Linked DNA regions of Homo sapiens: region 2 is linked to region 1. The links come from fine-mapping of genetic effects on gene expression. A gene starts in region 1. The other region holds a variant in brackets. All regions are shown on one strand. Distances are between the middles of the regions. Region 1 holds the start of PELP1 (proline, glutamate and leucine rich protein 1). Region 2 overlaps LOC105371499 (a long non-coding RNA gene).

Region 1 (2,830 bases):
GGGCTTTGCGGGGGAGGAGCAGTTTTTCTTTTTACTTTATGCCTTTCTGTACTGTTTGAATTGGCTTTTGCAAGGCGCACGTCTTGTATCATTTCTGAAGTTGCAAATGTAGTTAAAAATGTCTGTGATTTCAAGTTACCTAGAGAGTTATTGATTCCTTCTCTTTCCCTGCCGCTGCCGAGTTGCGCGGAGGCGGAGGCTTGGGTACCTTCAAGATTCAGCTTCACTTGTAACCCACCGCCACGGCCGAGGAAGGCATTGCTGCTGGAGGGGTAATGGATGTTAATACTGCTTCACAAGAGGTGCTGAAGACCGCTCTCATCCACCATGACCTAGCACGTGGAATTCGCGAAGCTGCCAAAGCCTTAGACAAACGCCAAGCCCATCTTTGTGTGCTTGCATCCAACTATGATGAGCCTACTATGTATGTCAAGTTGGTGGAGGCCTTTGTGCTGAACACCAAATCAACCTAATTAAGGTTGATGACAACAAGAAACTAGGAGAATGGGTAGGGCTCTGTAAAAATCGACAGAGAGGGGAAACCCCGTAAAGTGGTTGGTTGCAGTTGTGTAGTAGTTAAGGACTATGGCAAGGAGTCTCAGGCCAAGGATGACATCGAAGAGTACTTGAAATGCAAGAAATGAAGAAATAAATCTTTGGCGCGCGTACACACACACACACGTTACTGATTCCTAGGCAGGGTGCGGTGGCTCATGCCTGTAATCTCAGCACTTTGGGAGGCCAAGGCGGGCGGAACACCTGAGGTCAGGAGTTCAAGACCATCCTGGCCAACATGGTGAAACCCCATCTCTACAAAAATACAAAAAAAATTAGCCGGGCGTGGTGGCGCGCGACTGTAATCCCATCTACTCGGGAGGCTGAGGCAGGGAAATCGCTTGAACCTGGAAGGTGGAGGTTGCGGTGAGCCGAGATCGCGCCACTGCACTCCAGCCTGGGCCACAGAGCGAGACTCCGTCTCAAAAAAAAAAAATGAGAGTTATTGATTCCTACAGCGAAGATGTCCCAAGACTCCGTCCGCTAAATGGAAATCGTTCCGACTTTGGCGCCTTTTGTCCGGACCACGTGTACCTTTAACATCACAGGACCGCCTCGGACACGCTCACAGGCAGCCTCATCCGCCATCACTCCGGGAACCGAGCACCCCGCTGCCTCGGCGCCCAGGCTGCTCTCTCCGCGCATGCTCCTTCCCAGCTTGAGCCCGCGAGTCCAGCCTGCCTTCACTCAGTGCGCAAGACCGCAGCCCCCTCCCCACGCCCCCTCCCCAGTAGGCGGCCGTCGCGGTGTGTTTGCGTCATCGCGCCACGCCACCACTGGAACCCGGGGGAAGATGGCGGCAGCCGTTCTGAGTGGGCCCTCTGCGGGCTCCGCGGCTGGGGTTCCTGGCGGGACCGGGGGTCTCTCGGCAGTGAGCTCGGGCCCGCGGCTCCGCCTGCTGCTGCTGGAGAGTGTTTCTGGTTTGCTGCAACCTCGAACGGGGTCTGCCGTTGCTCCGGTGCATCCCCCAAACCGCTCGGCCCCACATTTGCCCGGGCTCATGTGCCTATTGCGGCTGCATGGGTCGGTGGGCGGGGCCCAGGTGAGTCCGTGGCCCGCGTGCCCGCGGCCCTGTGGGGAGGATGGCGCGGCACCTGTGCGCCGGGATTACGGTGCAGTGCAAGTGCGATAGGGAGGTTGAAGGAAGGAGAGCTGCGGGCAGAAAGGGGATCCAGGTATCAGTCCGGACGGGATGCACGTATTTCTCCTTTATCGGCCATGAGTTTCTCCAGGGGAAAAATGGGCCTTATTTTTCTGTTGTTAGGCTATTGGTCGGCACACAGGAATCGATTAGGTTCCAGGCCCGGTCACTCACTAGTTGTATAATCTAAAAGTCTCTTTTTCCTCTGGCAATATCTGTTTCGGGGATTGTTTCGACTGACTGAATGACGCATTCAACAATAAACATTTACCGAGCTCTTATTGAGGGTCAGATACTGTACTAGGCGCTCCGGTTACAGACGTGGTGGCGATACACAAAATGCTGCGAAACAAGATGAGAATTGAATATCAGGGGTCTCTAACCTTATCTGAAGACTGGCAGAGATTTTTCCAAAGAAACCGGCGTTTAAGCTGAGACCCTAAGGATGAATAGGGGTTGGGTAGGGAAAAAATATGGGAGGGGCTGTTCAGTCAGAGGAGAGCTCATGTGGGAAGACCCTGTGGTAGGAAGGAACTGGAAAGAAGGGCATCGTTCCTGGGGCTCAGATGTGGAGGGGAAGAGAGTGGGTACAGATGAGACTGGTGAGATGGGTAGGCAGTGGTCGGGTCATGCAGAGCGTTTTAGGCCGGGTTAGGAGCCTTTGGACTTCTATAAGAATGGAATCTGATAACCATTCAGTTCTGCAAGCTAGACACTCAAGTAATTCTAAACTCTTCTTCATACACCTCCATAAGCAATCTGTCAAGTCCTGTTGATTTTATCCTTTGAGTAGTTTTCAGATCTGTCCACTCTTTTCCATCTTTCTCATTGCTCCCATTCTAGCTTGAACCCCCACCATCTTGTCCGGGTGAAGGCACTGATTCTAAGAAGGCATATTTCTAGCCCATAATAGCTGCTCCTTATAACAATCTCCTATCTTCCCTTCTCTCCCACTAAACCTCCCCCAAATTCTACCCATCCTTCAAGACCCATAAACACGAGATCTTCTGTGTCCACCCTTCATTCCTGGGACCTTCCTAGCTCTATGCTACCTTCCAGGAAGATGGTTGTCACAATTTGCTGGGTGGGTCAATAACCTTAGCCCCAGATTTATCACAGATAACCCTATCTGTT
Region 2 (2,907 bases), 47 kb after region 1:
CCAATCTTACTCTATGTCTGTGCATTCAGAGGTAATTGGTGCCTTCAATTTTTGAGCTTTTTCAGGACTCTGTTGAAACTATGCCCCAAAGAGAAAGAAACCAATGACTAACAGAAATTCTTAAGTTTGCAGGATGGCAGATAAGAAAAGAAACCTCTTGCTGAAATGCTGAAACTTCCTCTGCTTATGAGATTAAAAAAACTGGCTGAAATCAGTTGGAATCCATATGGCCAGCTGGAGTCTATGCAGAATGAGCCCGCTGACCTCACAGCCTTTCCACTGCACCTTTCACACTAGCGCCCCCCAAATTTGCACCTATGACCCATGAAGAGGCATGAAGATACCACTGTGGAGGCCCGAGGACTTTCCAGACCTTTCCTTCCCTTCCACTAATCACCTATTCATCTCAGAATCCACCCGCTAAACATTTTTTTTTTTTTTTTGAGACGGGAGTCTCGCTCTGTCGCCCAGGCTGGAGTGCAGTGGTGCGATCTCCGCTCACTGCAAGCTCCGCCTGCCGGGTTCACGCCATTCTCCTGCGTCAGCCTCCCGAGTAGCTGGGAATACAGGCGTCTGCCACCACTAATTTTTTTGTATTTTTTAGTAGAGATGGGGTTTCACCGTGTTAGCCAGGATGGTCTCGATCTCATGACCTCGTGATCCGCCCGCCTTGGCCTCGGAAAGTGCTGGGATTACAGGCGTGAGCCACCGCGCCCGGCTTAAACATTTTCTAATGAAGACACTGCCTTAAAGCTGGCACAGAAAGATTTGAGCTGGACTTCTGTCTCCTTGTTGGTCGAACTGCGATAACAAGCTTTCGTTTTCTCAAAAACCTGGTGCCATAGTATCGGCTTCTAGTGCATGGGGCAGCGAGCCCTTTCACTCGGTAACACTGCGTCAGGAACTGGCATGCATTTTGGTGGTCTCACAACCCCAGCTCTGCCCCCCAGCACATCTCGTTGAGAGGTGACAGCGTGCCGGCAGCTCTCGGCGCCTCCTCGGCCTTGGCGCCCACTCTGGCCTTGCTTGAGAAGCCCTTCAGCCCGCCGCTGCACTGCGGGAGCCCCTTTCTGCGCTGGCCAAGGCCGGAGCCGGCACCCTCAGCTTGCGGGGAGGTGTGGAGGGAGAGGCGCGAGCGGGAACAGGGGCTGCGCGCGGTGCTTGCTGGCCAGCGTGAGTTCCGGGTGGGCGTGGGCTCGGCGGACCCCGCACTCGGAGCGGCTGGCCGGCGCCCCCGGCCCGGGCAGTGAGGGGCTTAGTACCTGGGCCAGCAGCTGCTGTGCTCAATTTCTCGCCGGGCCTTAGCTGCCTTCCCGTGGGGCAGGGCTCGGGACCTGCAGCCTGCCGTGCCTGAGCCTCCCCACCCCCGCTCCGTGGGCTCCTGTGCGGCCCGAGCCTCCCCGACGAGCGCTGCCCCCTGCTCCAAGGCGCCCAGTCCAATCGACCACCCAAGAGCTGAGGAGTGCGGGCGCATGGCGCGGGACTGGCAGGCAGCTCCACGTGCGGCCTGCTGCGGGACCCACC[C/T]ACCGGGTGGGTGAAGCCAGGTGGGCTCCTGAGTCTGGTGGGGACTTGGAGAACCTTTATGTCTAGCTAAGGGATTGTAAATACACCAATCGGCACTCTGTATCTAGCTCAAGGTTTGTAAACACACCAATCAGCACCCTGTGTCTAGCTCAGGGTTTGTGAATGCACCAATCCACTCTGTATCTAGCTACTCTGGTGGGGACTTGGAGAACCTTTGTGTCCACACTCCGTATCTAGCTAGTCTAGTGGGGACATAGAGAACTTTTGTGTCTAGCTCAGGGATTGTAAATGCACCAATCAGCACCCTGTGAAAACAGACCAATCAGCTCTCTGTAAAACGGACCAGTCAGCTCTCTGTAAGATGGACCAATCAGCAGTATGTGGGTGGGGCCAGATAAGAGAATAAAAGCAGGCTGCCCGAGGTCGCAGAAACAACAAGCTGGAACACGTGTGTGCGTGTTGTTTTTTTGTTTTGTTCTTTGTATTTTTTGTTTGTTTGTTTGTGCTGTTTGTAGTAAGTCTGGTCGCTGTTTGGGTCTACACTGCTTTTATGAGCTGTAACGCTCACCGCGAAGGTCTGCAGGTTCACTCCTGAACCGCGAGACCAGGAGGAACAACTCCTCCAGACGCGCTGCCTTAAGAGCTGTAACACCGCGAAGGTCTGTAACTTCACTCCTGAGCCAGCGAGACCACCAACCCACCAGAAGGAAAAAAACTCCCAACACGTCCAAACATTAGAAGGAACGAACTCCGGACACGCTGCCTTTAAGAATTGCTACACTCATTGCGAGGGTCCGCGGTTTCATGCTTGAAGTCGGTGAGCCCAAGAATCCACCAATTTTGGGCCCACCGTTCTCATCATTTTCTAATCTGTTAAGTCGGTTATCACCTGGCTGCTTCCAGGTGACAAAATCTGTTAAATCTCATCTGCAGTTGTAATCTCTCCTACTGTCTTTTTTCTTACGAGTTTATATATTTAAAACAATTTTTTTTTTGAGATGAAGTCTTACTCTGTTGCCCAGGCTGGAGTGCAATGGCGCAATCTTGGCTCACTGCAACCTCCGCCTCCCAGGTTCAAGCGATTCTCCTGCCTCAGCCTTTCCAGTAGCTGGGATTACAGGTGCGTGGCAGTACGCCCAGCTAATTTTTGTATTTTTAGTAGAGACGGGGTTTCACCATGTTGAGCAGGCTGGTCTGGAACTCCTGACCTCGGGTGATCTGCCTGCCTTGGCCTCCCAAGGGCTGGGATTATGGGCATGAGCCACGGCGTCTGGCTTTTTTTTTTTTTTTTTTTTTTTTTTTTTTTTTTTTGGAGACGGAGTTTTGCTCTTGTTGCCCAGGCTGGAGTGCAATGTCGTGATTTCGGCTCACCACAATCTCTGC

What was found. PIP is the estimated chance that this variant, and not a neighbour inherited with it, causes the effect. A credible set is the group of variants that fine-mapping cannot tell apart.
Region 2: its variant is the best candidate, but not a certain one, in a credible set for the expression of PELP1 in whole blood (TOPMed, PIP 0.53).

The regions. Positions count from the first base shown.
Region 1 is chr17:4,702,630-4,705,459 of GRCh38, reverse strand. PELP1 (proline, glutamate and leucine rich protein 1) reads left to right here and starts at 1,323. Exons shown (of 17, transcript NM_014389.3): 1 at 1,323-1,597. The coding sequence starts at 1,349. It overlaps PELP1-DT (PELP1 divergent transcript), which reads right to left and starts at 1,230. Exons shown (of 2, transcript NR_103482.1): 1 at 1,090-1,230; 2 at 1-261. It also overlaps the pseudogene RPS12P29.
Region 2 is chr17:4,655,108-4,658,014 of GRCh38, reverse strand. The region is part of intron 2 of LOC105371499 (a long non-coding RNA gene); the gene reads right to left. Among named protein-coding and RNA genes, the nearest start is that of ALOX15, 15 kb to the right of the region's middle. RefSeq lists an enhancer at 952-1,121. The variant C/T (reference allele first, on the strand shown) is at 1,525.